3 separate regions of the Homo sapiens genome follow, and all the other regions are linked to region 1. The links come from fine-mapping of genetic effects on gene expression. A gene starts in region 1. Each other region holds a variant in brackets. All regions are shown on one strand. Distances are from middle to middle.

Evidence for each region.
Region 2: its variant is fine-mapped to the expression of CD207 in visceral fat (GTEx, PIP above 0.99). The same link has a PIP of 0.9 or more in breast and tibial nerve.
Region 3: its variant is fine-mapped to the expression of CD207 in whole blood (INTERVAL, PIP above 0.99).

The regions. Positions count from the first base shown.
Region 1 is chr2:70,832,161-70,842,853 of GRCh38, reverse strand. CD207 (CD207 molecule) reads left to right here and starts at 7,038. Exons shown (of 6, transcript NM_015717.5): 1 at 7,038-7,150; 2 at 7,247-7,363; 3 at 8,834-9,208; 4 at 9,803-9,954. The coding sequence starts at 7,078.
Region 2 is chr2:70,881,864-70,892,556 of GRCh38, reverse strand. LINC01143 (long intergenic non-protein coding RNA 1143) reads right to left here and starts at 4,686. Exons shown (of 4, transcript NR_126384.1): 1 at 4,377-4,686; 2 at 4,209-4,271; 3 at 2,969-3,081; 4 at 2,573-2,736. RefSeq lists an enhancer at 4,179-4,829. The variant A/C (reference allele first, on the strand shown) is at 4,188.
Region 3 is chr2:70,865,011-70,875,703 of GRCh38, reverse strand. No RefSeq gene overlaps it. Among named protein-coding and RNA genes, the nearest start is that of LINC01143, 18 kb to the left of the region's middle. RefSeq lists an enhancer at 10,640-10,693. The variant C/T (reference allele first, on the strand shown) is at 5,579.

The sequences.
Region 1 (10,693 bases):
CTGTTCTCAGAGCTCAAGCGCTGTGCTGGGAGAACCACTGCTCTCTTCAGAGCTGTTAGATAGGGATGTTTAAGTCTGCGGAAGTTGTCTGCTGCCTTTTGTTTAGCTATGCCCTGCCCACAGAGGTGGAGCCTGTAGAGGCAGTAGGTCTTGCTGAGCTGTGGTGGGCTGTGCCCAGTTTGAGCTTCCTGACCATTTTGTTTACCTACTCAAGCCTCAGCAATGGTGTATGCCCCTCCCCCAGCCAGGCTGCAGCCTCGCAGGTCGATCTCAGACTGCTGTGCTAGCAGTGAGCAAGGCTCCGTGGGTGTGGGGCCCTCTGAGCCAGGCACAGGAGAGAACCTCCTGGTCTGCTGGTTGCTAAGACCGTAGGAAAAGCAGTATTTGGGCAGGAGTGTACCGATTTTCCAGGTACCGTCTGTCATGGCTTCCCTTGGCTAGGAAAGGGAAATCCCCCAACCCCTGTGCTTCCTGGGTGAAGTGACACTCCACCCTGCTTTGGCTCGCCCTCTGTGGGCTGCACCCACTGTCCAACCAGTCCCAATGAGATGAACCAGGTACCTCAGTTGAAAATGCGGAAATCACCCTTCTTCTATGTCGATCACGCTGGGAGCTGCAGACCGGAGCTGTTCCTATTTGGCCATCTTGGAATGGACCCATCCATGTTATTATATAAATAAATAGCTCTTAAACTTGGAAACATTTTGACCATTGTTTCTTTGAATATGTTTTCTGTCCCTCTCCACCCGCTTTGAGGACTTCAAATCCACGTATATTAAATTGCATGAAGTTGTCTCAGACTTCCTGATGTTCTGTTATTTTTTCTCTCTGAGCTTCATTTTGCATAGTTTCTATTGGCATATCTTCAACTTCATTGATCTTTTCTTCTACAATTTATAACCTGCCATTAATCCCTTTCAGTGTATTTTTCATACCAGGCATTGTAGTTTTTTCAGTCATTATAAGTTCAATTTGTATCTATTAAATGTTTCATGTCTCTATTTAACTGTTTGAACACAAGAAACACAGTTATAATGTCTATTGTAATGTCCTTGTCTGGAAATTCTAACATCTGTATCATTTCTGGGTTCGTTTCAGTAGATTGGTTTTTATCCTTATTACGGGTTATATTTTTCTGCTAGTCTGTTCTATGAGCTCTGTTATGGATTGAATTGTGTTTTCTGTTCATTTACATGTTGAATCCCTAATCCTCAATATGACTGTGTCTGGAGATAGGGCCTTTATTATAAAGCTATACTAATTAATATTGTAGAGTTTTGTTATATCAATAGAAAGACAAATGGAACACAACAGAAAGTCCAGAAACAGACCTTTAAAGATATGAAACAAACTCAAACATATTATGAAACACATGATGAAGATGGTACTTCATAATCAGAGATAAAATTATGCATGGTTTTAAAAAATGGTATCTGGACAGCAGGCTACCCATTTAGAAATGGATAAGTTAGATTCCTTTCTAAAATCATGGAATACTTGAACAAAACCATAAGAGATAAGAAAAAAATGGAAAATCATGAAATCCAAATGTATCAAATATAAAAAGTGAAAATGAAGTTACAATAGAGCATGAAATAAAAATAAAAGTTATTATGCAGATGTAAGTTTGATTTTAAGGTTATCCATAATATATTATTACACAAAAAAAACTTACACACTATAGGGTATAAGTCTAGTTTTGTAAAAAAAAATGTATATGCTTACATAACGCATTGGACAGGACTCTTTGGTTGCAAGAAACAGAAACTCATCCAATTAAATTCAAATGAAAATAAGAGATTTTCATTTTTGTGTTCACATAACCAAACCAAGAAACACAGTGTCTGTGGGGAATGGAACTCAAGTTCAACAGGATCCAGCACTCAAAGGCACCAGGACTCACTTTCTGTCTCTTCATTTTTTGTTACAGCTTCTGTCTCTGTGCTGGTCTTATTCTACTGGGGTCTTCCACATGACAGAGGAACTGGTTACTAGCTGCCCTATAGTCATATCTTTAGGTCCCTCAGTTTAGGGAGAGAGGAGAGCTACCTTCCTACCCAAACCCTGGGCACCCATCATTGCAAGTTGTCACTCCTACACCTGCGGGTATCTAGGATCAGCAGCCCCATTTGAATCACAAACTGAAAAAATTTCCCAATGGAGGGGGATTTTTGGTATCAGAAATGCAGGAGAGGTTGGGCGCAGTGGCTCACGCCTGTAATCCCAGCACTTTGGGAGGCCAAGGCAGGTGGATCACAAGGTCAGGAGATTGAGACCATCCTGGTTAACACGGTGAAACCCCGTCTCTACTAAAAATACAAAAAATTAGCCGGATGTGGTGGCAGACGCCTGTAGTCCCAGCTACTCAGGAGGGTGAGGCAGGAGAATTGCTTGAACCCTGGAGGCGGAGGTTGTAGTGAGCCGAGATCACGCCACTGCACTCCGGCCTGGGCAACAGAGTGAGACTCTATCTCAAACAAAAGAAAACAAAACAAAAAAACAAAAAAGAAAGGCAGGAGAGGTGGGGAAGGATGCTAGGGAAAATAAGCAGGAATTGTGTTGTGAATATGTATATAATATATGCATAGTTATGATTAGACACAGCTATGGCTATAGATATAGATGTGTATACATATACACGTGGGTGGTTAGGAAGACTGAACTATGGGTACAACATTTGTTTTCTCTACGATGGTTTTGTTGTGTTTTGTTTTGTTTTGAAACAGAGTCTCACTCTATCACCCAGGCTGGAGTGCGGTGGCACAATCTCAGCTCACTGCAATCTCCACCTTCCAGGTTCAAGTGATTCTCCCGCCTCAGCCGCCCGAGTAGCTGGGACTACAGGCACCCACCACCATGCCTGGCTGATTTTTGTATTTTTAGTAGAGACGAGTTTCACTTATGTTGGGCAGGCTGGTCTCAACCTCCTGACCCCAGGTGATCCACCCACCTTGGCCTCCCAAAGTGCTGGGATTACAGACATGAGCCACTGCACCCAGCCTATGGTGGGTTTTTTTCTTACTTGGATTTTTTTCTATAATTAATTATCATTAATTATATAATAAATAAAAGATTTAAAAAGAAACTATGCACATTTTTTTTCCCAAAAGCCTTTCATTACTTTCCTGACATAGATTTGCCCTTCCCACTGAGGCTATAGGCATGAGTTCTTTGACTTATGACGTAGTCTGGGGCAGCCTCCTCTGCCGGGTACACAGCAGCTCTTCCATGTGGCTAGGTTGCCAGCCTATTTACATATCACACTATTTATGATGGCACTGGGTGAAATACCCTGATCAGTAGGGTCTGGCTTATTGTCACTGTTCCAAAGAGACCTGTCCTCATATAATGTCATAAAAGAGGAACCCGTTATCAGGGTCCAAGGAGACCTGGGAAGGCCCCTATAGTGTCGTCAGTCATTTTTAGTCTCGGGAGAGCCTTCCCTTCTCCCCAGCATTAAGGATGTCATATTTTTTCAACAATAGGAAAACCATTCCTGAGGGCAGGGTCTGTGGTTGTCTTTTTCCTTGCTGTGTCCTGGTACCTAGTGCACAGCAGGACTAGAGGAGTGAATGGTGCCACCTATGCTCCTTGGTTTCTCTGCCCTATCCCCTGTGCCCAGGGCGCATGTCCGGAGGGTGGCATGGAATCCCTTGATTTTTTGGAGGCTGTGGGCCAAATCCCGCATCACATCACAGGAGTCCCTATGTAAGCCAGGTGTGACCAGCTGTAATCTCCTCTCATTTCAGAGTCATTCTCCCCTCCTCCCTCTCTTCTCCTTCCCTGTCCCCACTCCGCAATTTGGTGTTCACTCTACTTTCCTCCATGACTTGACTGAGGGACTTGGGTGACTCCTCCCTGGAGATGACTCTTGGCACTGCTGGAGCATTTCATACAACCCAGGTCTCTGTTCCAGTCTTGTTGATTAAACCCATGGTTCTCCTCCAAGCATAAGGCTGGGCCCAACCATAGTCTCAACCAGAGAAAGGGAAAAAGTGACCAAGCTGTTTTCTTCCTCCATCCTTATCCAGAGAAAATATTAGAACCCCAGGAACACAGGAAGAGGAGAAACTAAAAAAATGAGCACAGACTTCCCGTTCTCATCACAGCGGTGATTTTTTTGGTCACTAGGTCTGGCCAGAGTTCCTCTTCTGTTTGGAAGAGCAGGGCATTGTCTGAGTGCCCGGGAGAACTGCCCACCTTCCTGACTGGAAAGTGTGGCCAAGGCACCTGCCTGCTTCTCTGTCTTTTCTCCTGCCAGGCCAGGTGCCAGATAGAGCATCCAGAGGTTTGCACAGGAGAGGTGCTCAGGAAAGACCTGTAGATGAGCATGATAATAGGAAGATGGCTTCTGACTCCCTCCCTCTCCACAAAGTGGGAAATGAAACTTCCTATGGTTTGGGACTTTTACATCCACCTCCTCTGAAACCCCAGAAGGCCCACAGCCCAGGATTCCATGCCTTTGCTCAGCTTCCTCATGCTGGAACAGCCTTTCGCCTAGCGGTAGCTATTCTACCTACCTCAGCCTGCATTTCCATCACTTGGAGTAAATGCTCCCTGCTCCAGCCCCTTCCTATGCCATGGGCCCAGCCGCTAAGGCTTCCTCATCCTTTCCTGGGACCAATGAGAGGGCATCTGGGGGGCTCTATAAAGTATAACTCATACCACAAACCAGCAGAGAAAACCCAACTTCCTGACCGAGCGGAAATGGACAAGACACTTCCCAGGCACACTGTGTGGCGGCTTCTTTCCCGCAAATGCCTCAGGAGGAGACATGGACCCCTGCAAGGCCCCTTCTACCAGGGTCTTGAGTAATTTGGATTCTTCTCTATCCCCAGGCCCAGAAATAGGACAGGCTATGGATGAAGGGCCAGGAGCCAGGAGCAGAAGGGCAGAGATGATTCTGGAGTTAGGCTGGGTCCCAAGCATGAGAGTCCAGAAGTGGAACATTCTAATCCTGTCTAAGCCCTGATGGAACCAAGGCTCTGCAACCACACGAGCCACCTGAAGAGAGTAGGAATCTTCATGGACACCCAGAGGCAGGCAGTGATGTGGAGCCAGGCCCTCATATTCGGGACTATCAAATGTTAAAATTTAGAGCAGACAGCAGGCCTGGAAGTTACAGACAGGCTGGGTAGGGAAGCGATGGGACAGAACAAATGAGACACCATCTTTGCTACCCAGTTTCCTTCCCAGAGCTTCCCAGTGTGGGGTCCTCTCTGGGTTCCCTCATCCAGTCCGAGAAGCCACTCCAGCCTGAGGCCCGGTTAGCTGGAGAGAGAGCATCAAGGGCCTGTAACTACAATGAGCTGCACATAGGCATGGGCTGAGCGTGCAGCCACTATCCTCCCAAGTACCAAAGGTGGCAGTAGCCCCTGAAAGCATAGGTAGATATTTCCTTGGCCCTGTTAACTTAACCTCTAATCCTGGTCCCTGATACAGGCTGTCATCCAGCTCCACTGGCTCAGCCTCAGCAGGCCCAGGACAGCTTTCTTTTCCTGCGGCCAGAGCTTTTGTTCATTCCTGGGTAAGGAGTAAATCACACTTCCCCTTATGCTTTTGCATTGAAGATGAATGAGAACTTCTGGAGACAGTGGAAAAAAGCAGCAGCTTCTAGAAGGCAGATCCCAGGCCCCAGACTGTGTAAATGTCTGAGTGGCATGATCAGCTATCAAGTCTCCAAGTCACTTACCATTCACACATCCATCCATGCATCCTCTATCCATCCATTCATCCATTCACCCATCCTCCAATTATCTGGACCAATTTCCTTCTTTTTTCTTTCCTTCCCTCCCTCTTTCCTCTCCTCTTTCCTATATTCCAAGAAATATTTGTCTAGAGTCTGCCATGTGCCAAATTTCTCAGATTTGGCAGACTTCTTCAAAGCATGAGAAGCCGCCCAGGAGAAAATTTAGTCCTTCATTGAGCCCAAATCAGCTCTTCTGTGCCCTGAGCTTCTTGCACATATGGAACTCTCTATTTAGGACTACAAAGAAGGAGAGAGGAGGTGCGGACAGAGAGAGAGGAGAGAGAAACAGAACGATTCCTAGTCTGAGGTTGCTGAGCGCCCCTACTTTTTTTGAAAATCTCACATGGTGCAGGAAGCAGGGAGGAGAACCCAAGTCTTAGGTTTACACTTTGAATCTCCAAGTTGCATATTATAAAGGGATATTGTATCAGCCAAGATGCATTAATAACAGGAAGCAGGATATTCTATTGCAATGGTTGCCTATTTGGTATCTCTGCTTCCAGGCTTCTCCCCACCAGTCTGCTCCTCACCAGGATCAGAGTGATGTTTCTACAGTGTCCCTGTCCTTGTCTCTCTCCTGCCTGAAGTCCTTAATTGGCCCCATGTCACCCACAAGCCAGAGGTCCAGCTCCTTGACATGATCAGAAGGATCTTCATCATCAGACCCCAGGTGCCTCTTCAACCCCGTGTGCATCCCCTTCCTGTTGGAATGTATATTTTACATTCCAGCAATATTGCAACTATTTACAATTTGCCAAGCACTCCATGCTATCTTATGCTCCATCCTTTGGCATATGCTTATCTTTCTACTGGATTTTTTTTTTTCCCATTACTCCATTTCATATGCTTCTTTGAACTGGGCATATTTGTCTCTTGTGCTCATCACCTTGCAATTTATTTGCTCATGTCTGTCTTTCCTACCAGACTATGAGCTGCTTGGTGCAAGGACTGCGAGTTATTCATCACTGTGGCCCTATGCCTGGTAGAGCATCAGTACCTAGAAGGCACTCAGCCTGTATTTGTGGGGTGAATGGATGGGTGGATGGATGACGAGAGTCTTACAAGAGAAATGGGATAGGTTTGGGACAAGATGGTTAATGTATCCATGTAACAGACCCCCAGAGAAGACAACAAATGGCCTCTTCCTGAAAGCTCAGACTTCTGAGGATGGGAGTAAGCCAGACAAGGTATCTAGTCAGGAATAGGGAAGTTGGGATGATATGGTGACCTGCTGTGGGACTGACTTCCTGTTTCCTCTAGATAAGAGCCCTTGGAGAGACAGGCAGCCAGAAGCACCTGTGCTCCCAGGATAAGGGTGAGCACTCAGGATGACTGTGGAGAAGGAGGCCCCTGATGCGCACTTCACTGTGGACAAACAGAACATCTCCCTCTGGCCCCGAGGCAAGCCACATCGCTGCTGAGAACCTGCTCCGTGTTCTGTGTGCAAACCTGCCCTTTGCTGCTCCTTCAACACACATTTTCTTCTTCTTCCAACAGAGCCTCCTCCCAAGTCCGGTCCATCTCTGGTCCCGGGGAAAACACCCACAGTCCGTGCTGCATTAATCTGCCTGACGCTGGTCCTGGTCGCCTCCGTCCTGCTGCAGGCCGTCCTTTGTAAGTCCTCATGTTTCATCGTCTGGGCTTAGCCCCTCTCTGTGGCCAGCCGGCTCCCTTCAGATCGAGACCACTTCCCTGCTCTCCGGGTTTCTCCTGCCTGTGGCTTTTTCATTTGTCTCCTTCCTCCTCTTTCCATGTGCAGTAACAGGCTGTGCTGCCCCCAGTACGGTGAGCTGATGCTCTTTCCCTCCCAATTTCTGGGAGATTATTGGGATTAGCATTTGCACATTGGTGCTCAAGGATACATTCTTTTGTCCTCAGGAAACATTGATCTAGTTTTACATCCTGTGCTATTTTCTCCCCGTCCACCCCCCACCAATCTGAGCTCTGCTCCTTGGATCTAGAGCCTTGTGGACAGTCCTTGACAGTGCAATGTCTCCTGACCCTGTGAAGGACCGAGCCTCATGTATCATTGGCCCCAGCTCACCAGATGGAGAGCCTGGCCAACGAGCCAACAGATCTCCATGACTCAGTCCCCTCTCCCCAGGACTCGTTGGTGCTGTCTTCATTCTCCTGTCCCTGTGAAGATCACATCTAGGGAGGCTTCCTGCTCATTTGATGTTGCATGGTTTATCTTTCTTCCTTTTCTGGCTCTGTCAGGCTTCATGGCCTTTGCTGCTGGCAGAGCCTTCTTCCTCCTGCCAGGGCTCCAGGAAGCAGAGCAAAGGGACCCAAGAAGCTGTTGGGTTTTTTTTTCTCCCTCTGTGGCCTCGGGACATATTTGGGCTTAGACTTGTAGGCTCTGAGCAGAGTCCCCCTTGCCCCATCCTAGACCCCTGGCCTCTAACATCGCATTTTCCTCAGGGCTCGCCTTTGAGCCTCTTGGTTTATCTTTGATCCTCTCTCTGGTACCCAGGCCTGGGACCTGAGCAGAATGTGAAAGTGGGTGGGGCAAGGGAAGGGGAGAAACAGTTTTGTAATCTCCTCTTCCATGTTCTCTGGAGAAGCCACTTCCAGATTAGTGGCTGGTTCTTCCCATGGTCACAGAGGGGCCCATGGACAGATGTGGGGGAGTGGTGCTGTCCTAGCAGATGGCCACTGCAGGGGTTTCTGAAAACAGAGGGATGGCAACCAAGGGGTGGGGTCTAGGGGGAATCAAGTTCTGGGGACAGTGGTGGGGCTCATGGAGGGCACCCTTTATCAAATGTTCCCTGAACACTCAGAAAATTCAGGAATGGTTTCTAACTCCTGCTTCTGCTTGCCTGTGAAATCTTTTCACAGAGAGCCTGTGTTTTATCAATCTCCCCATTATCTGTATCCACCTGTGTTCCTGGCACATGGTAGGTGCCCATTGCACGTTTGTTGTACGTTAATGAATGATTGGAGGGTTGGGGTGGCCCATTGGACTGTCTTGGTTCTTTGGGAAGCTTCAGCCTATTCCTTCCCTTCCTTTGATCAACCTGACAACACCCCCACTCCTGTCCCTGGGACTCCCCTCAGCTGACCTCCTGACTTTCTCAATCCCAGATCCCCGGTTTATGGGCACCATATCAGATGTAAAGACCAATGTCCAGTTGCTGAAAGGTCGTGTGGACAACATCAGCACCCTGGATTCTGAAATTAAAAAGAATAGTGACGGCATGGAGGCAGCTGGCGTTCAGATCCAGATGGTGAATGAGAGCCTGGGTTATGTGCGTTCTCAGTTCCTGAAGTTAAAAACCAGTGTGGAGAAGGCCAACGCACAGATCCAGATCTTAACAAGAAGTTGGGAAGAAGTCAGTACCTTAAATGCCCAAATCCCAGAGTTAAAAAGTGATTTGGAGAAAGCCAGTGCTTTAAATACAAAGATCCGGGCACTCCAGGGCAGCTTGGAGAATATGAGCAAGTTGCTCAAACGACAAAGTAAGTGACTCAGAAAATTACATTGAAGCTGACCAGTGGCCCATGGGATCTTACCTGTCCCAGACCTGAGGCCATTGGGCTGGTGGGTTGGGGAGGAGAGTGGGGGCAAAAGAGGGGCAGCCATGGGCTAGGAAGTTAAGGAGAGAGGGCTTGAGGTTGGGGAGGACTTAGGGGCTGTTAGGAGAAAAGAGACCAGGGTCCAGCTAGAGCTCCCACACAAAAGTGCAGAATGTAAAAGCATTAGGGGATGTCCACCCTGGCCCACACCTAGTCATTTCCCATCAAGTTCCTTTCTAGAGTCCAGGGGCTCAGCCACTTGTCATGGCCGATGGAGGGTTGCTTCCTCATCATGGGGAAGACACTCTTTGTCCAACCTCTTGCATTATAACCTCTCCAGTCCCAGAGACTCTATTAGTCTCTGTCTGACTTTCAGGATTTGAAAGAGTGTCCCTAATCTCCTATACAAGGACCCAAGGACACCAGCGCACAGCTCCATTTGCTGCTGTCTCTGAGACCTCATTCAAGTGCCCCCACCAAGCCAGCATCCCAAGAAATCAAGAATACCAGCGTTCACTTTTACCTCTTGTTCTCTAGATGATATTCTACAGGTGGTTTCTCAAGGCTGGAAGTACTTCAAGGGGAACTTCTATTACTTTTCTCTCATTCCAAAGACCTGGTATAGTGCCGAGCAGTTCTGTGTGTCCAGGAATTCACACCTGACCTCGGTGACCTCAGAGAGTGAGCAGGTGAGTGCTGTGCCTATGGGCTCTGTGAAGGGGGCGTATGAGCACTGGGCCAGGGAGGATGGGCAAGATTATACTGCGTGAACAAAAATCCCCAAATATTGATGACCTAATGAAGAAGGATTGGTTCTCAGTAGCATGTCGAATAAGGGCCGGCAAGGGGGCTGTGCTCACTGTGGCTACTCAAGGACCCAGGCCCAAGGAGTCTTCATCTTAATATGTCTCCACAATTGCTGGGGCAGGAAAGGGGAACTTGACATATTGTGCAAAGCTTCTGCCCAGATTTAACATACCTCATTTTTGCTTACATTTCACTAGCTTAAGTTATGTTAATTAAGTTAAGTAAGTTATGCAGTACTCCTGGATTGGGAGGATCCTGGATTCCAGTACTCCTGGAACAGGGCAGAGAGGATCTACTTTCCATGTGCCCAGAAAAAAAGAAATATTTGTGAACAGCCTTAATGATTCCACATGACTCAAGAAGTCTCCTGCCTGGTGAGGCAGAAATTGGGCAGGCCCTTTTCATCTGGGAGGTGGGATAGCAGAGCAGGTCAGAGCCTGGGCTCTGGCGTAGTTCTAGAGCCTGAACCTTGCCATCTAACTAGTCCTAGCAGCTTGGGTGGAATACCCAACTTCACTGGGCAAACTTCACTGGCCCTCACTTGATGAAACATGCATGGTGATGGCACCTGCCTCAGAGGAAAGGAGAGAATGCATATGGACGACTCAGCACAGTGCCGTA
Region 2 (10,693 bases), 50 kb before region 1:
ACAGTCTCTGGAGCAATGATTCAGAGTCGTGGCTCTTGGCTAGGTTGGGTTCAGATCCTGGTTCTACCACTTAACTAGTTGCTAACAGGCTGCTGAACCTCTCTAGGCTTCAGTGTTCTCATCCATTAAGTGGGAGTAATATTAGTATCAACCTCTGGAAATGTTAAGAGGAGTAAATTAATATATTCAGAGCACTTAACCCAGTGCACTTTACCTGGCACTCTGTGGGTGCTGAAGGAAAGATTTAAGCTTGTATCATTTAAGGCTTAGAGCCAAGAACACACTGTAGCCCTAATTGCTCCCTCTCCTCCTCCTGCCAGGGTGAATGAAGAAATGAGGAGGTTAGCCATGCCCAAGGGGAGCAGCGGGAGACTGTCCAGCATGCGGGTTGTGAACCCAGATTCCAGGGCCCTCCACACTGACTACCTTAGTGCCTGTCCCAGGTGGTGGGTGCAGGAGAAATGCAACTGGCTGCCAAGGCTGAGGACAGCAATTCTCCTCCCAGGTTGGCTCAACCCTCTTTTTCCCAAAAGTGGCCATTGGGCTCAGAGGACAGTGTGCTGTGAGGCCCAGGCTGGAGCCCTGTCTTCATCCAACTCGGCCCTGGCACAGACCCTGGGGAGCATTCTGAGTTTATCATTCCAGTCTCATACCCAAAGCCAGATCCTGCATTTTTCCCAACCTGAGAACCCCAGCCTATTCATCAGCCTTTCCTGAGGCCCAGGGAAGAACAATTCAGGGAAGGAACAGCAACTCGAGCCCAAGAAAGATCTGAGTCCTCTGGCAAAGAGGCAAACGGAGATTGCAAAGGCTGTGTGTGAGTGTGTGTGTGTGTGTGTGTTTGTGTGTCGCGGGGGAGACACGGGAGGGGGCAGGCATCATTTCCCAGGCATTTCCCACGTGATGCTCCTGGAAAGCTCAGGGTGCAGTTTGGATCACTGGGACTGCTCTCTGGACTGTCTTTGGGGAGGGGCCTGGAGGTCAGCATGGGCGGCCTTTATATCCTTTGATACCTTTTGAATTTGTGGTGTGTTAAAAGTCAAACAAATCCAGTAAAACACAAATTTAAATGTCATTGTTAGAATGGATTTGAAGCATTTCGTTTCTGTGTTTCCATCAAGGGCAGTGGCTCACCTTTCCTTCCTGACTGTGCCTCAGAGAGGTTGCCTACAGTGACTTACCACTTAGGCAGGTCTTCTTTTCGTCTTTGCCACTAGTCACTACAAAGTAGGCAGGTCTCCTTTTCATCTTTTTGTCCTTTTTGTCTTTGCCATGCCTTCTGTGCAAGCCAGAACACTGTACATTCAAGGTCACTAACCACCTGTCTCCCATGTCCCCAGTGCTAGGAAACCCTCAGGTTTAGGGCCCTGTTGCCTCAAGCAATAATCATTTGCGATCAGTGATCTGTGTCACCTGCAAGCGGGTTCCAGACTGACCTTGGCAATCAGGAGCCAGGCATCTCTGGCACCTCTTCCTAGGTCACCCTCTCTCTGGTTTCCCCTTCACCATGTGAGCCAGAAGCTCTGCTCTCGGGCTCAGGTGGGTCCCAACAAGCATCCAAGGCCTGTCTGCTGAGTGGCCTATTGTCCATGGTGAATAGGAGGGGTTACCTAGGGACTGAGTCTCTAGGAGCCACTGGCCTGGGTGGGACCAGGCTAGAGGAATTCTCTATCTCTTGACCCTGGGAGAGGACTTTCAAAATGCAAGGGTGAGGAGCTGAATGACAGCCTGTTTTGGGTGACTGTTGGGCCTGTGTGGGAAGGCACTGGCCACTATCCAAGGCCCTCTAGAGGTGGCAGCCTCGGGGGCCCGTCCTCTTACCCCAAGATGCTGCTAGGAATTTATATCTACTGGAAACAGTTCTCCAGGAGCTGTTGCACATTCTTTGAAATATTTGTCATCTAACAAATGTTTATTGAGTTCCTAAAATATGCCAGGCACTAGGGGACAGCTGTGAGCCAAACAGACTCGAATAGTCGGTCATGTAGCCTATATCACTGGAGATGGCCAACCTTCCAGGGGCAGTCAGACTGATACAGGGCCAAGGCTGGAACCCTGGAGTTTGATCTTTGGGGGTGGGAGAAGCATGCTACCTGGTTGTTTACATGTTGCACATACCAGGGGATAAGTCTAAGTATCCGATTTTTTTTTTTCCTGGCTAGAAAACAGCCTCTGAAAATAACTCCCCTTAAATAAATGCTTTTTACTAAGCCTCCATGGTCCTGTAATAAACACCAAGAAGGGGAGTACAGTGCTTTGTGTTGGGTTCAGTTTGCTTACAAAACAAAACAAAACAACCCCAAACAAATGTGCAGACCCTTGCCTTGGAGGTGTTTGTGTGTGTGTGTGACCTGTGTTTGTAAATGTGTGTAGTGTGAACTAATTTCATCAACTTTTAAAATAATGACTTTTACTATTTTTTTTTTAAGAGACAAGGTCTCACTCTGTCGCCCATGCTGGTTGCAGTGACACGATCACGGCTCACTACAACCTTCTACTCCTAAGCACAAGCTATCCTCCTGCCTCAACCTCCTGAGTAGCTAGGACAACAGGCAGGCACCACCACACTCGCCTAATTTTTTATTTTTTATTTTTTTGCAGAGACGAGGGTCTCGTTATGTTGCCCAGGCTGATCTGGAACTCCTGGCCGCTAGGGCTTCTCCCTCCTTGGTCTCCTAAACTGTTGGGATTACAGGTGTGAGCCACCCCGCTCTGCCTTTTCTTTTTTTTCTTTTTCTTTTAAAAGGAAAACATGCATCTAAGAAAAAATTCTAAGCAGCACAAAAGATTAAGAAATGACTACCAGGTGTCTCTCCAGAATCTCAGCCCCATCCCTAGAAGCTCAAGCTCTCGTCCCATCTCACTCTCCGGTTTTAAAAATGAGATCAAGTCGCCCTGTCCGCGGTTCTTCCTGCCTGCCCGCCTCGCCGGCCTGGCTCTGGCTCCTAGCGGCGGGTCTCCTGCTTACCTTTCCTGCGCCCTCACTGCGCGCCAGCCACTTGGGAGAGTGCTTGCTTCCCCACAGCGTCGCCAGTTTGGTGTGTTACCGAAGATTTTGATCTTTGTGGGTCCGATGGGTTTCTTAAAGAAAGACATGAATTATGCTAGGGAAACAAGAGGAAGCAAGAGAAGGGCAGAATGTTTGAGGCAAGAGACGCTTTGCTTGGGTCCTGGGGGTGCGAGCGCGGGCTGGGGACAATGCGGGGGCAGTAGTTGCCTGAGCTCCAGATCACACCTGCACTCAGAGGCGGGAAGCCCTTATCCTGGTCACAGCCGCGCGAGCGGAGAGAGGCGGCGGGGCGGCGGGGTCAGCGGGAATTAGCGCGCCAGGGCCGGGGCGAGGGATTGCCGCGGGGCGAGAGTTCGGGACGGGATTAGCGGGTTCAAAAGCAGGTCAGGGAGAGCTAAGCAAGGCGACGAGGTCCGCGCGAGGTCAAGGTCCCCGAGAGAGGCGGGTTCCGGACTGGGCTCGGGAAAGGCAGCGGGCATTGCGATCGCGGGGAGGCTGCACCGGGAAGCCCAAGTTCCGAGCGCGTGGAGGGCTCGGCCGGCATTCGAGTGTAGGCCGCGCCCTCTGACGGCCGCGGGGCGAGGACACCTCTGACCATGGGCCTTGGTCGGGAGGAATGAGCGAGGGGCGAGGTGAACCCGGGTACGAGTGCGCGGCAACTTCAATGAATGTATCCGAGGTCGCCAGGCGCGCGCGCCGCAGATCTGCGGAACCGGGTTTATCTATTCGTCTTTTACATCGTAATCCCGTTTCCTTTTATTTTTACAACACTTTTTTTTTTCTGGCAAGGGAAGTCATCTCTTAGGCAAACAAACAGTCAAAAATAAAAATAAAAAACCGCACTGAACAATGCAAAGAAATGTTCTTGGCAGGAGCCAGTCTCTCCCGCGTCTCCTGGCACCTGTGGCCTCCCTGCGGAACAGATCCCAGAGTGTGACACCTTCTGTGTAAAAATAATCGCAACCCACACTCCACCCTTCTGTGCGTCCTGCACACGCACCAAGGGAGAGCTGGAAGGACAGCCGAGGGATACACGCTCTTCCACGAAATAAATATGTTTTAGGGGTGTGTGTGTGTGTGTGTGTGTGTGTGTCTGAGCCTCTGACTTGAAGTTATTGGAGAAGGTATTCACACATTATTTGGGTTCTCTCTTAAAGAGCTCTTGGGTTCTCTCTTA[A/C]AGAGCTCATGGGAAACACACCTGGCGGTACTGTGGGATGCGAAGTGGGCGCCTCACTCGGAAACCCCGGCCTTGGTGGATGATCTAAGAAAAAAAAAAACCCAGATGGACGGATACATGGGCACTTTCGGGATCGCTGGGTGCAGGCCGCCGTCGCCATTTCCACCGTCCACTACTCCAGGCACCTGCCTCTCGTCCCCAGCCTTGGCCTTTAGGTCTCCCTTCCCGCAGATGTCGCCTGGAGAAATGGAGCCCGGATGCTCAGGCGCGCGGCGTGGTATCCCCAAACCCGGGACCTCTGTTTTGGGTCTGGTTGATTTTCCACGGAGAACCGAAGAGTCCGCTCCTCAGGGGCGAAGTTTGCAAGTCCTTGGGGTAGATGGTGACGGGGGCTGGGGCGCGAGTGTGAAAGGACAGGAAAGGAAGGAGAGGGGAGAGAGAAGCAGGCTGAGAAGTGGGGGAAGCCGCGGAAGCCGGCAGCGCGGGAGCGGAGACGCGGAAGCCGGGTAGGGGGAGGGGCGGACTGGGACCAGGGCGAGGGGCGGGGCCGGAAACGGGCGGACTCGCGCCCTAGACAAAGCGCGGCCCGGTGGGCGAGGGCCAGCTGCTCTCCCCGCAAGGTCTCCCGAAACCGGGCTTTCGCTCGGCCAGCCGGCTGGTTCTGGTGGGGACGCGCAGGTTGCTAGTGGGGAAGCCAGTCCAAAGGGATCGATCGCCGGAGAAACCCCACGCATTCACCCAAACAGCCTTCGGCTCAGGGTGGCCGGAGCAGAGCCCAAGGGTCAAGGGCGAGGGGCCCCTTCCCTGCCCTTTTGTCCAGGTGGACTCTGTGGCCGTCGTTTTGTTCTGAGACCCCCTGGGAATGCCACTGCCGGGCCACAACCCCGACTGGCAGGTCAAGGTGCAGGAAGTCCCGCCATTAGAAATGCATTCCCCAGGCTGATATTACCTTCTTTTTCTCAGTTTTACAGTCATATACACAATGGTAAGACTCCTCTTGACGCCACTTCCAACCTCTGTGCACTGTTCGCATGGCTAGAACAGCAATAATAGAATTGAAAGCAGGAAAAATATCCCCGTGCTACCCCTAAAAGACTCAGTCTTTTTTTTTTTTTTTTTTAAATGTGCATCTTTATTTTGCATAATGTTAGTCCTGGTGAACATGTAGTTTTGTATTCAGTCTTTTCTACTTGAGGCCACACTTCAGTATTTGCTATGTGCTATGATCCTCATAAGTATACTTTTCAATGGCCGAGTAATGCTCTATTATGTTACTGTGTAATTTACTTAACCGTTCAATTACTTGATATTCTTCCGTGTCCAGTTTTTCTGTATGAAAATAATACACAACCTAAAATCTTCGTGTATATAGTTTTCTCCTTTGGGGAGGATTATTTCTTCAAGATTCTTACTGTTTCAGCAGGAAGGGGACATTTTCACTACTCTTAATAAATTGCCCAACCGCTTCCCAAAGCAATTTACGCAGGCATTTATTTTCGGGTCATTATGGGCGTGGTGCTACCGGTCAGGAATGTCCAGACTAAATCAGTCCCACCCTTAGAGCACTTTCCCTGCACCCCAAGCCTCTGGGAGGCAGGCCCTTGGAGCAAAAATTACCGCGCAAAGTGGGCAGCACGGTAGGGAGAGGAAAGAAGAGGCAATGGGAGCCGGGGAGTGGGTGAGGGGTGTGGGGGTTCTTTCCCCAGCCTGGAGAAAGTCAGGTAAGGCTTCACCTGACTTAGCAAGGAAGTGAAGGTGACTCCCGAGTACAGCCCCAGGCAGGGGTTTGCCAAGTAGAAATGGAGAGAGAAACATAGAAACCTTTGTCTGCGCAGGCTGCAAAGTTTGTTGGGTTTGGAGAGGTACGTAGTGGTTATACGCTGCGAGGGATCATAAATGTGGGTGGAAAAGTCCAGGAAAGTGGGATTCTCGCCATCCAGTCCAAGGAAATTGGAAACAGACAGCCTGGTTATTGTGCATTTGCATTATTTTAAACGGTTGCTGTATTAATAGAGGCATGATTACATAATCATTATTGTTGTAAATTATGTTTTACTGAAAACTAGTTTACATTTCCTTATTTAAAAATACTAATTGTCTTGCTTTCTGACTCTTGAGGCTGAAGAAAGAAATAGGAATTGTCCTTTAAGAAACAATTTCTTCTCTAAACCACAGTAATATGTATTTTAAATCATAAAAGCAATACATATATTATTTGATTTTTTAATAAGAATATATTCACATAAGATTAATTTAAAGATTATAAGTGAACACAAACTCATAAAATAATCAGACAAGTGTCTACAAGTCCTTCCTTAATCCTCTGTGCAGAAGTAGCATGGCTTATAGTTACTACGTTGCATATGTGAACTATTTAGATGTTTTTTGCAACAATGATTTATATTCCCTGCCACTCTGCAAATTGCCTTAAAAAAATAGGTCATAGTTTTCTTACATGTTAATGGAAGTAGCTCTATCTCATTCCTAGCAGCTGTCTTGGTAACATTATATAGATGTTCCATCATTTTTTTGTCTGTATTAAAAAATTACATATTTGTTTATGTGGTTGTATTTTATATAATAAAAGTTCAAACAGTGCCAAAAGATAAAGATAAAACATGACACCTCCCTTCATGCTTGTCCCTACTTCTACCCCATCTCATTCCTCAGAAGTGTGAAGTGAGAAGTTTGGGGATTGTTTCGGCAGCTCCCCTCCCTAGTCTGTTTTAAAAATAGTGTATTTAGGCCGGGCACGGTGGCTCATGCCTGTAATCCCAGCACTTTGGGAGGCCGAGGTGGGCCGAGGTGGGCCGATCACCTGAGGTCAGGAGATCACCAGCCTGGCCAACATGGTGAAACCCCGTTTCTACTAAAAATACAAAAATTAGCTGGGCGTGGTGGCTAGCGCCTGTAATCCCAGCTACTCCGGAGGCTGAGGCTGGAGAATCGCTTGAACCCGGGAGGCGGACGTTGCAGTGAGCCGAGATCGCACCATTGCGCTCCAGCTTGGGCGAAAAGAGTGAAGCTCCGTTTAAAAAAAAAATTGTGTGTTTAATCTTTTTAGACTGAGCACTCACGCACTCACATTCTCCTCCCTGAATTTCACAACCCCCTCCTCCAAACCACTGGGTTGTATTTGCTGTTAGTCTTTGTTGTCATATATTCTCACAAAATAAGCTCTTTTTTTTGGTGTGCGTTTTTATTGTATGTACATGGTATTGAGTTTTATATTTCATTTTAAATATTATTTAAAATTGTTAAAAACAATTTCAAATTTATGGGAAAGTTGCAAGAATATTACAAAACTCTAGTATTGTCTTTAAGCTGCAATTGCATTATCATTCTCTTTTAAAATTATTTTTATGGAAGCATTTGAGGATAAGTTGCAGACACCATGCCGTTTTACTATTAAATACTTTCGCGTGCATTTCCTGAGGGCCATCACCTACATGCCACATTGCAGTGATTAAAATTAGGAATCTTAACATTGATATATAATCTTCAGATCTTATTCAAATTTCATCAATTGTCCCAATAATATCCTTTATAATATTATTATTTTTTTCTGGTCCCAGATTTAATTCAATATTACCCATTGCATTTAGTTTTTAAGTTCTTGTTAGCCTCCTTTACCTGGAAACAGTTTATCAGCTTTTTTTGTGTATGTTTGTAACAGATATTTTTGAAGAATATGGACCAGTTAGTTAGATTGTATATATTGGAGTTCCTTGTTTTATTTTGAACAGTCTGAAACTTACAGAGAAATTGTCAAGAGCATTACAAAGAAACCCCCTCCTCCACTTACCTGTTTGAACTCAAGTTGCTGACATAATGCTTTATTTTGTATTTCTAACAAACAAGGACATTCTCCCTTGAAATCGCAATGCAATCATCAAAATTAGAAAATTAATGCTATCACAATTGACTCCTCAGACCCCCTTGTCAATGGTTCTGCAAATGTCCTTTATTATCAAAAGGATGCAGTAAAGATGTATTGCAGTCAGTTGTCACGTCTCTTTAGTCTCCTTCAATCTGTGACAGTTAGTTCCAGTCTTTGACTTTCACGGCCAGTTATTATGTAGAAAGCCCCTCGGTGTGGATTTATCTCATGTTTCCTCACAATTCAATTCAGACTATGCATCTTTGGCAGGAATATCACAGAAGTGATATTGAATTCTTCTCATTGTGTCCTATCAGATGGTACATGATTTTGATATATCCTGTACTGGTGATGTTAACTTTGATCATTTGAGTGAGAATTAAGTTTCTCCCTGTAAGGTTATTTTTCCCTTTGCATTTAATAAGTATTTTGCAGGGAGGAACTTTTAGACTATCTATATATCCTGCCCCTCATCAAGCTCTTTGTGCATTGTTTAGATCAATATCAACAAATGGATTCCTAATGTATTCAATAGGCTATATTTTGTTACTATATTATTTATTTAATTTGTGAATTGTCCCAAATGTCCTTTTTTGGGGGTAATAGCTTTATTGAGATATCATTCATGTATCATACACTTCACCTATTTAAAATACACTGTGTAATGTTTTTTAATATGTATATTCACAGAGTTGTACAACCACTCCTATAATCAATTTTAGAACATTTTCATCATCCCCAAAAGAAATCCCATTCCTGTTAGCTTTCACCTCCCAATTCTCCCATCCCTGCCAGCCCTAGGTAACTATCTACATTGTGTCTCTATAGATTTGCCTATTCTGAACATATCATATAAATGGAATTGTTCAATATATGGTCTTTTGTGACTGACTTCTTTCCCTTACCATAATGTTTTCAAGGTTCATCCGTATTGTAGCATAAATCAGTACTTCATTTTTAATGGATGAATAATTCCATTGTATGGACATACCACAGTTTATCTATTCGTCAGTTGATGGACATTTGGGTTGTTTCCACTGTTTAGCTATTATGAATACATCCTGCTGTGAATGTTCTTGGAGAAGTTTTCGGTGGCCATATATTTTCATATCTCTTGGGTACATACCTAGGAGTGGAATTGCTAGGTCAAACAACTAATTCTATCTTTAAATTTTTGAGGACCTACCGCACTGTCTTCCAAAGTGGCTGTCCCATTTTACATTTTCCCCTAGCAATGAATAAGAATTCCAATTGTTCCACATCCTTGGCAACACTTGTTATTGTCTGTTTTTTCAATTATAGCCATCCTAGTGGATGTGACTTTGTATTTCAATGTGGTTCTTATTTGCATTTCCCTGATGACTAATGATGTTGTCTATCTTTTCATGTGTTTCTTGGCCATTTGTATATCTTCTGTAAAGAAATATCTATTTATGTCCTTTGCTCTTTTTCACATTGGGTTATTTGTTTTTATATTATTGAGTTTTATTATTTATTATTTATATTTTTAAGGTAGAGTCCTCTAGTTGCACAGGTTGGAGTGCAGTGGTGCAATCATAGCTCTCTGCAGCCTCGAAATCCTGGGCTCAAGTGATCCTCTCACCTCAGCCTCCTGAGGAGCCAGGACTACTGGTGTGCACCACCATGCCCAGTTAATTTCCCATTTTTTGTAGAGACAGAGTCCTCCTATATTGCCCAGGCTGGAAGAGCTTTTTCTAGTTTTCTTCTTTTCTGTATTTATGCTACCTTCTCGAACAGTGAGAAATCTGTCTCCTATTTTCCTCAGTATGTATATTTGATCAGTTTCCTGGTGTGTAACGAGTTTCCTGTGGCTGCATTGCCTCTCTGTGCCCCACCCCCACTGAGGAGACTCTGCTCACCCCACTGTGGCTGAGGTATCTGATGCTGACACTGTGTGGATGTCTCCCTGCTTGGATCCCAACACACCCATGCGGATTCACCATGGCAGACACTCTCCCTTATGGGGATGCTTACCTTGCTTGGCCCTACCTAATGGCTTTTGGATGACATTTTCAGGAAGGGAAGAGCAACTATATATATATATAAAAAATTGTATTTTTTTTGCCACATCAATTGACTCTTTTTTTTATGAGAGATTTCTCTGTAGCATGAGATGCTGTTTGACAGCATTTTACCCACGATAGAACTTCTTTCAAAATTGGAATCAGTTTTCTCAAACTCTGCTGCTGCTTTATCAACTAAGTGTATGTAATATTCTAAACCCTTTGTTGCCATTGCAAATAATGTTCACAACATCTTCACTGGAAGTAGATTCCATCTCAAGAAACCACTTTCTTTGCTCAACCATAAGAAGCAACTCCTCATTCATTCAAGTTTTATCATGAGATTGCAGCAATTCAGTCGCATCTTCAGGCTTCACTTCTTTTTTCTTTTTTATACTTTAAGTTCTAGGTACATATGCATAACATGCAGGTTTGATACATAGGTATACATGTACCATGTTGGTTTGCTGCACCCATCAACTCATCATTTACATTAGGTATTTCTTCTAATGCTATCCCTTCCCCAACCCCCCACCCCCTGAGAGGCCCCGGTGTGTGATGTTCCCCACCCTGTGTCCAAGTGATCTCGTTGTTCAATTCCC
Region 3 (10,693 bases), 33 kb before region 1:
TGATCTTGAACTCCTGACCTCAAGTGATCTGCCTGCCTTGACCTCCCAAAGTGCTGGGATTACAGGCACGAGCCACCACGCCTGGCCCCATGTTATATTTTTAAAGATCCATCTCTGTTGCTTCAGATGGCTGTATAACTCTCCATGGTGTGCAACCACTTCATTTTACTTCTCTGCTCTCCCAAGATTAGATATCTAGGTGGTTCCAATAACTCCCCTGCCTCCTCAAATAATGCCATAACAGGCTGGGCATGGTGGCCCATGCCTGTAATCCCAGTACTTTGGGAGGCCGAAGCAGGTGAATCACCTGAGTTCAGGAGTTTGAGACCAGCCTGGGCAACATGGTGAAACCCCATCTCTACAAAAAATACAAAAATTAGCCAGGTGTGGTGGTATGTGCCTGTAGTCCTGGCTACTCAGGAGGCAGAGGCAGGAGAATCACTTGAGCCCAGGAGGTGGAGCTTGCAGTGAGCCAAGATGGTGCCATTGCACTCCAGCCTGGGCGACAGAGCAAAACCCTGTTCAAAAAAAAAAAGCCACAACAAACTTCCTTGTACAGGTTTCCCTAAGCATCTGTGGGAAAATATCTTTGGGATCTATACCAGGAGTAGAGTTTCTGGGTCACTAGAAACATCTAACTTGCCTAAATATTGTCAGCTTGCTGTCCAGAATGGCTGCTCCAGTCTACACTCACCAATGTGCACGTAGTTTTGTGTATCCACACATCCCCTCCACTGTCAACTTGGTATTTTCCCACTCTTGAGTTTTTGCCAGTCAGCTAGGCATCAAGGGATATTTTGTTGCTCTAATTTCCACATCTCTGGAAATTACCAATGATCTTGAGCATCCACCCAAATGCTTATTGGCCCTTGGCTTTTCCAGGTCTATGCATTTAGCTGCATGTAGTCCTCTATTTTCTTAAAACCTATAAGGGCTCTGACTGTTCGTATTGTTTTCCAACCCTCCCAACCTCCAGCCCTTTAAACGTCTTGGAAAGCTTTTTATCAGCTGCATGGAAGTGCATAGCTTGAGTGACCCATAAAGTATTAAGCCATTTCCCTATTAATAGGCATCTGGAGTCTTCAGAGGTTTTTCACTACCACAAACGAATTCTCCCATAACCCTCCTTAAACATACATCTTTGCACTTGTGCCAGAATTTCTTCAGATAAATTTTTAGAAGTGGTGTTTTTAGTTTAGCATGCGTGTTTGAGGACGCCATATTTAGCCATATGTAAGAGTGTCATCAAGTCTGTGGTGGAGACCAGGGACTCAGTCAGAGACCACAGTTTGGGAGGAAAATAGGTATCACTGAGAAGTGTTCCTGATTTGAGAAATAGGAAGAGACATTGAAGCTGGAGTTAGGTAATAAGGACAGTTGCCAGGAGACAATGCTGAGCACAGGTGGGTAGTCAGCCATGTTGGCTGGGACGTGCCAGGCAGTGGAAAGGGAGGACACAGGTTTCCTGAAACTGCTCTGTAGACACCATCAGGCCCAGAAGCAGCTGCTCTGGAAGGAGCAACAAGGGAATTGTGGGTCCACTGACAGGAGTAAGCAGTATTTTTTCACAGGAACATTGACCACCACCTTCCCCTGATGGCCCCAGAGAGCAAGGGTGGACAAGTGGACACCTGCCTGGTCGCAGTCTTCTTTACAGTCTGAGATCTTACTTCCTATGGAAGCGCGAGGATGTAAGTTTCTGCCATATACAGTTGGGCACGTTGTGCATTGCATAAGGTTACCTGGCTCAGAAGGTAAATGGGGACTGAAAAAATTACCCTGAGCTAATTCTTACAGATTTTTTTCCCTGTCTCTGGGCCATGAGGGAGAAGACAGTGCTAGGGCTCCCTGGCCTCAGGTCAGCTGCACAGAACTATCCAGGGGACGGTTCCCAGGATCGCTCTCTCACCAGCTATCTCCTACCGAAGAGGACATGTCTCTCTTTCCAGCACTCCCTCAGGGAGGCAGCCCACACTCCCTGGGGAGACTCCATCCTGTTCCCCTTTGGCCGAGCCTATGTGGGGCTGTGCAGTGAGAAGAAAAGTAACATTTTCTTTGGGTGCAGGCTGGGGCAACTGGGCTGAGCTTCAAACTTGTTTTCTTTGAGGAAGAATTGAGGACTAATTATATGCACCAACTGCTGGCTGTTAAAGAAGGAGACAGAAGGCCATATGAGGTGGCTCATGCCTATAATCCCAGTGCTTTGACCGACCAAGGCAGGAGGATGGCTTGAGGCCAGGAGTTTGAGAACAGCCTGGGCAACACAGTGAAACCCCATCTGCACAAAAAACTTAAAAAAATTAGCAGGTGTGGTGATGTGCATCTGTAGTCCCAGCTACTTGAGAGGCTTAGGTGGGAGGATCACTTGAGCCTAGGAGTTTGAGGCTCCAGTGAGCTATGATTGTGCCACTGCACTCCACCCTAGGTGGCAGAGAGAGAGACCTTGTCTCTAAGAAATAAAAAAGAAGCCAGAAAGAGATGGGGGGGTCTTATTTCTTTTTTAGGAATCCCCAACCTCAGTCACAGAAACAAGCACCTACAGAGACAGAGACACAGAAGTTCATGGAGACCCAGGCCCTGGGCAGGCACTCTCAGGTGGCCCAAACCCCCAAGGTGGGTGAGGACCACTGTGGGCTTGGGGAGGGAACAGCCCTTCCTTTCACACAGCAAGAGAAGTTTGGGCTACCCAGGTGCCGAGACCAGCTCGTCTGGGGAGACCCTAACCCAGTGGCTCTAGAGGAATTAAAGACACACACACACACAGAAATATAGAGGTGTGAAGTGGGAAATCAGGGGTCTCACAGCCTTCAGAGCTGAGAGCCCCAAACAGAGATTTACCCACATATTTATTAACAGCAAGCCAGTCATTAGCATTGTTTCTATAGGATATTAAATTAACTAAAAGTATCCCTTATGGGAAACAAAGGGATGGGCCGAATTAAAGGATAGGTTGGGCTAGTTAACTGCAGCAGTTATTGCTCATGCTATTGTTTGTGGCTTAAGAATGCCTTTAAGCGGTTTTCTGCCTTGGGTGGGTCAGGTGTTCCTTGCCCTCATTCCAGTAAACCCACAACCTTCCAGTGTGGGCATTATGGCCATGATGAACATGTCACAGTGCTGCAGAGATTTTGTTTATGGCCAGTTTTGGGGCCAGTTTATGGCCAGATTTGGGGGGTCTTGTTCCCAACACCAGGGGGCTCCAAGGGGCTGGAGTTTGAGGAGATCTGGACAGGGTCTGAGGTCAGCCAGGGGCTGTGTAGCGCCCAGTGTAGAGCTGTGGCAACCTCATTCCCACTCAGCTTGGCTTCACAACAGCTCACGGAGCAGTTACTTTGATGAGGGACGGGGCTGGGCACTGTAATCCCAAAATGCCTGACAGGTATTTTGAGATTGGAGACACCCCCCTGCCCCACCCTCCTTTTCCTGAGGACCAGGCAGCTCAGGCATCTGGGAACTTTTTCATGCCATGTGACCCAGAAATTCCACTCCTGGATATAGATCCCAAACATAATCTCCCACAAGTGCTAAGGAAACCTGTACAAGGAGAGATACACAGTTGGGCAATTATGACGCAATAAGAAAAGTGCTGATGAAGGTGAATATTAAGCACTTACCGGTGTGCCTATGAGCTCCCTAACGACCCAGTGAGGTGGGCCGTATTACCCCATGTAATAGATGGGGAAGCTGAGGCTCAGACAGGTCAGGTAACTTTCCCAACGCCACACAGTAAACGGTGGAGTGGAAACATCCTTTCAGCCTCATGGCAGAGCCTGTGCCCCCATCACTGCACCACACGGCCCTTGGTACCACACTGATGGAGGAAGGCGGCGGTAACGACAGTGTCCTGGGTGTCAGGGACCGGGACGTGCCCCTGGCGTACGCACTAATACCACGCCCCAGTCTTCAGGCTAATTTCACACTGACAGGGCTCTCCTACCCTGGCCGCCGCCAGTCGGTGCCCGCCCGCCTCCAGTAGTGCTGCAGCTGTCCTGCCGGCCACCTCCAGGGAAGCGGCCTTGTGCTGCCCTCTGCTGGTCGCAAACTTACAGCACCGAGGGGTTTCGCTCTTCGCCGACTTCCTTGCGCAGGCACCCCGGGTGGTGGGCTATGGCTCCCTAGGGTCCAGAAATGGGTGGATGGGGGTGGGAAAAGGAGGGAGAGTGGGGGATGTCTCCAACGAGGCCAGGCCCGGGAAGCTGGCCGCGTGTCTAATTTCTCTGGTTACACCTGTTCGTGCCCAGTGCAGCAGTCCACGCTCCCTAATCCTGGTCCATAAGGGAAGGGGCAGGACGGACAGCCCCATTAGGATGGGAAACCCAAGAGGAGTCCTTTATGCTCCCGGAATACTCCCTGAGTACTGGGGGTACAATGATAATGAAAACATCCACCTTGCTGTAGTGAACAACGGCAGCTCCCACCCCAGGGTACCCCTGTGGCCAGACGTCAGTCACTGTCCTCTTCCTCTTAGTGACTAGAGGCCATTTTGAGTGTCTGTAGGGGAGATAGACATAGGAAGATTATACGGGTGATGCATTCGAAAATAACTGTGGCTGTAAAGGGCGAGCCTGGCACCAGGAGGATCAGGAGCCAGGGAGAGCTTGCACTTGAGCAAGGCTTGGTATAATCCACAGGAGTTGGGCTTTCTCTAGGAGGAGGCCCTGGGAACAGAAGAGTCGGAGAACAGCTCAACTCTGTGTATCTGCATCTGCTCTGTTCCAGGATGCACGCCCCCTTTTCCTCAGCTTCCAATCCTACATCTTGGCAGGCTGCCAGAGATTAGGCCCTTGGAGATATGGGGTGATATTTCTTCTTTGTTGTTTGCCATTGTAAGAGGACAATCATTAGCTTTACCTGAACAGATAAAACATGACAACAGGAATATCAAATATGTTGGGGAAGGAGGTCCCTAATGCTCAGGAGGATGACAGTTCCTTCCCAATCCACTCTCTGTCCCATGTGAAGGGCATCCCCAGCCAACTCTTCTCCAGAAGCACAGTCCCAGAGTGGGAGGTGAGAGGGAGCTGCTCTCATCCTGCTATGATCTGAATGTTTATGTCCCCCCACAGTAATGTGTTGAATCCTAATCACCAATGTGATGGTATTAGGAGTTGGGAACTTTGGGAGGTGATTAGGTCATAAGCATACAGCTGTCATGAATGGGATTAGTGTTCTTATCAAAAGGACTCCAAGGGCCAGGAATGGTGGCTCACACCTGTAATCCCAGCACTTTGGGAGGCCGAGGCTGGTGCATTGGCGGAGCTCTGGAGTTAGAGACCAGCCTGGGCAACATGGCAAAACCTTGTCTCTACAAAAAATACAAAGATATCTGGGTATGGTGGTGCATGCCTGTAGTCCCAGCTGCTTGGGAGGTTGAAGTGGGAGGATCGCTTGAGCCTGGGAGGTTGAGGTGGCTGCAGTGAGCCATGTTCATACCACTGCACTCCAACCTGTATGCCAAAGTGAAACCCTGTCTCAAAAATAAATTAATTAATTAATTAATTAAATTTTAAAAAATCAAGAGCTATAAAACAATGGAACAGCTTCATTCCCTACTCCAGTCCCCAGTCACCCAGGTACC[C/T]TCCTCAAAGGCACTCAATAGTGTTAGTTTCTTGTGTAACCTTCCAGGGGCGTCCTGTGTATGCACAAACAAATGCACACACAGCCACATAGGCCACCCTCTTTACGCACACAGCAGTTCACTTAAATTGCTTAAGAGAGGGTTCCATGTACGTGGAGATCTTCCTGGAGCTTACTGGAGAAATACCAGCATCATTCCCGCTGAAGCCAAGAGCAAAATCCTGTGATTTCTGAAATGTAGCTGGAACTACTCCCTGGAGCAACCCTGTCATTTAAAAGCTGCAAAGAAGTGGAGGTGGCAGTTTAACTTTGGGCAGGCTATTATTTTAATTGTGGCTTGCCCTGCCCTAACCTTTTTGCTTTAGGATACCCATTGGGTGCTCCCTCAGCCTGTGAAAATGGCCCAGAAGGTTTGGGCAGGTACCCATGGGGTACTGCCTTAAGTCCATTCAGACTGTTGTAACAAAAATACCATGAACTATGGGGCCAAGCGTGGTGGCTCACGCCTGTAATCCCAGCACTTTGGGAGGCCGAGGTGGGCAGATCACTTGAGGTCAGGAGTTTGAGACCAGCCTGGCCAACAGAGATGGCAAACCCCATCTCTACTAAAAATACAAAAAAAAAAAAAAAAAAATTAGCTGGGCGTGGTGGCACGTGTCTGTAATCCCAGCTACTAGGGAGGCTGAGGCAGGGGGATTGTTTGAACCTGGGAGGCAGAGGTTGTAGTGAGCCGAGATCATGTCATTGCACTCCAGCCTGGGAGACAGACAGAGACTCCATTTCAAAAAACAAAACAAAACAAACAAAAACACAAACCCATGAACTGGGTAATTTATAAACAGTAGAAATTCATTGCTCACAGTTTTGGAGGTTGGGAAGTCTGAGATCAAGGTGCTGGCAGATTCTGTCTGGTGAGGGTTTGCTCTGCTTCAAATATGGCCCCTTTTGCTGAGTCATCACATGGTGGAGGGGCCAGGGAGCTCCCTTCAACTTCTTTTCTAAGGGCTCTAGTCCCATCCATGAGGGTGCAGCACTTATGACTCAACCATGTCCCCAAAGGCCCTGCCTCTTCATACCACCCCAGTGTCCACGTAGGTTAACACAAATGAATTCTGGAGGGACACATTCAGATTATAGAAGGTATGATCAGGGCAGAACATAGACCCTGCTGGGGTATGTGAGGGTGACTCTTTTGAAAATTATAATTTTATATCCAGGCAGATTGTCACTCAGATATGAGGGCATACTAAACATTTTTCTCAATATATACTGTAGGATGACCTACGCTGAAAACGCTTTTGGAGAAAGAACTAAAAAAAGATGAGACAGAAAACCTAGCTATATGTCTTTTTAAACAGACACATTTAAGATGTAAAGATACGGACAAACTGAATGTGAAGAAAGGGAAAAAGATACATTGGACAAACAAACAAAAAAGCAAGCATGGCCATATTAATATCATTCTCATGACAAAATATTCACTAAGCAGATAAAACAGGTTTTTTTTGTTTTTGTTTTTCTTGAGATAGGGTCTCTCTCTGTCCCTCAGGCTGGAGTGCAATGGCACAAAGATGGCTCACTGCAGCCTTGAACTCTTGGGCTCAAGTGATCCTCCCACCACAGCCTCCTGAGTAGCTGGGACTGTGTGCACCACCACACCCACCAATGTTTTTTTTATTATTTTTTGTAGAGATGGGTTCTCCTCTGTTGCCCAGGCTGGTGTCAAACTCCTGGGCTGAAGTGATTCTCCCACCTCAGCCTCCCAAAGTGCTAGGATTGCAGGCATGAGCCACCACACCCGGCAACAGTTCTAAACATGTATGCAATTAACATGGTTTTTTTTTTTCTTTTGAGACAGAGTCTCACTCTGTCGCCCAGGCTGGAGTGCAGTGGTGCAGTGGCGCAATCTCGGCTTACTGCAAGCTCCGCCTCCTGGGTTCAAGCCATTCTCCTGCCTCAGCCTCCTGAGTAGCTGGGACTACAGGCACCCGCCACCACGCCCGGCTAATTTTTTGTATTTTTAGTAGAGACAGGGTTTCACCATGTTAGCCAGGATGGTCTCAATCTCCTGACCTCGTGATCCGCCTGCCTCGGCCTCCCAAAGTGCTGGGAGCAATTAACATGGTTTCTAATGATAACATAAAAACGAACGAATTATAGGGAGAAATGTACACATTTACTATCCTAGTGAGGGATTTCAAAACACTTCTAGATTATTGATAGGCCAAACAGATAAAAAAAAAATCCCTGTGGCAGATCTAAAATCACAATCAGATCCCAAACTTTTTGTAAGTCTGGAAGAATAGTTTCTAGCCTTCCATCTGCTGTGATTTAGGGAAGAACATAACAGTAATGGAAATGGATGCGGCAAACCAATAAATAACAGTTGGTATATCAGTATTCAGTAATCATATTGCTATGAATATGTAAACATTATTCACAGCTGAATCACAATTATATTTTCCTTTCCTATACTACTTTAAAAAATTAATAATTATTTTTTCTTTTCATTTGGTTAGTTTTCTATATGCTTTGAAATAATTCAACCTCAGACTCTGCCAACTCTCTACAACTCCTCTCAATTTCTTCAGAAAAATCTATCAATTTTCATTGCCTTGAATATCTTTCTCCTGGGCCGGTTAGATTTCCCAGAGAAGGCTCTTCCAGTCTCCTGCTTGCAGAGGAAGACCAGGTGTCTTAGGGGCTGGGGATGGGATTGAGGGTCTCAACATTTGGTAAACAAACTCAACTTTCCTTGCTTCCCTTAGCCACATGTGAAAAAAGTTGGAATTTTCATAAAAGATTTTTACCAAAGACTGAAGGAGAACAATATTTAATAGCAATAAAAGACAAAAAAAAAAAAGAGCGAAGAAGAATAAATATTCTATATTCTATAAATGTAGCCAAGCTATAAGGGTCAGGCTTTCTTTTTAAATTTTTATTCTGAGACAGGGTCTCACTCTATTGCCAGGCTAGAATGTAGTGGCACTATCATAGCTCACTGCAGTCTTGAACTCCTGGGCTAAAACAATCCTCCTGCCTCAGCCTTCTGAGTAGCTTGGACTATTGGATCATGCTATCATGCCTGGCAAATTAAAATTTTGTTGTTGTTGTTGTAGAGACAGGGTCTTGTAATGTTGCCCAGACTGGTTTTGAACTCTAGGCCTCAAGCGATCCTCCTGCCTCTGCCTCCCAAAGTGTTAGTATGACAGGTGTGAGCCACTTCACCTAGCCAGGGTCAGGCTTCTGAGCCTACCAGAGCTGACTCCTCTTTAAGATCCAGGGGCTCTTTACTGTTTCAAAACCTCCTTCTGGGATCACCATACTCCAGAACAGAATTGACTGGATAAAGTGGATTCATAATCCATAATTTCTGACTGGTTGGCTGCAGCTGCCTGGTTCACTGTGTGAGGGTGACTCTTTTATTTTAGTCTTTTATTATGCATTTTAGAAGCAAGTACAAAAGTAGAGGGAATAATATAACTCCCCCACCATATACCTATTACCCAGATTCCACAATTGACCTTATTTTATCTATATCCCTATTCTTCTCCCTGAAGTTATTTTATTATCTGTAAATACTTCCGTATGTATTTCTAAGAAGTAAGAACTCTTTTTTAAAAAGTGTAATAATTAGTCGGGCATGGTGGCTCATGCCTATAATCCCAGCACTTTGAGAGGCAGATGTGGGAGGATTACTTGAGCCCAGGAGTTCAAGACCAGCCTGGGCAACACAGCGAAACCCCATTTCGACAAAAAAAATAAAGAAATTAACTGGGTGTGATAGTGCACACCTGTAGTCCCAGCTACTTGGGAAGCTGAGGTGGGAGGATCACTTAGCCTGGGAGGTCAAGGCTGCAGTGAGTGAGCCATGATCGAGCCACTGCACTCCAGCCTGGGTGACAGAGTGAGACCCTGTCTCAAAAACAAACAAACAAGCAAACAAAAAACACAGTAATTATACCTACAGATTAGTACTAATAGCCAGTCATTGTTCACATTTGCTCTTTTGTCTCACATGTGTTTTCTTTAACAGGTACCTTGTTTCAATCAGCATCCAAACAAATGCCATACATTGTGTTTGTTTGATACATCTTTAAGGCTTTTAAAATCTGTGACCATTCATCTTACTCTTTATGTATGAGTGTGTGTGTGTGTGTGTGTGTGTGTGTGTGTGTAACTAGAGCCGTTGTCCTTAGCATTTCTCATTCTTTGGACTTACTCACCATGTTGCAGTATCCTCTGTACTTCCTTTAATCTGGCAATTAGATTTAGAGGCCTGATCAAATTGAGGTTTGGATCTGAACTCAGGTGGTTTTTTTTTTTTTTTTTTGAGACAGACGCCCAGGCTGGAGTGCAATGGCGCGATCTCGGCTCACTGCAACCTCCGCCTCCCAGGTTTCAAGCGATCCTCCTGCCTCAGCCTCCTGAGTAGCTGGGATTACAGGCACCGCCATCACGCCCTGGGCAGATCACCTGAGGTTAGGAGTTCAAGACCAGCCTGGCCAGCATGGTGAAACCCTGTCTCTACAAAAATACAAAGGGTTTGTTTGTTTGTTTTAATAGAACCTCATGAATAGTGCTGGGTACCAGGAGACTTGCTGCCGGGGTGTCCTTTTGTGCTGGAGGGCTTCTGTCCTGACTATAATGAGCACTTCTGGACAAGGCAGCAAAGGAAGAGGGCCCCTTTTTCTCAGGAGCCTTTCTGAGAATCCTGCACCTGCAGCAGCCCAGTGACTCCTGACCCCCTGGTCTCTTTTTGGTGGGTTCATAAGCAACACTGGTCTAGAAGTCTGAGGGCTTGAGTCAAAGTTCTGACCTCACTAGACAACCTCAGGAAAAGTCAGCTAACTTCTTGGGGTCAGGCTGGCTCCATTTTACATTAGCTAACTGAACCAATAAAGAGTTATTTCAATACATGGTTGAGTATAGCATTATAGCTAGGACTGGACTCTGCACCTGGGCTGCCTGTGTTGGAACACCAGACTTGCTGCTTAATAGCTTTGTGACTCTGAATAAGTTACCTAATGTATCTGTACCCCAGTTTCCACATCTAAAAAAAATGGGCCTCCTGTGAAGTCACCACCTTACAGGGCTGTTGTGAAAATGAAATGAG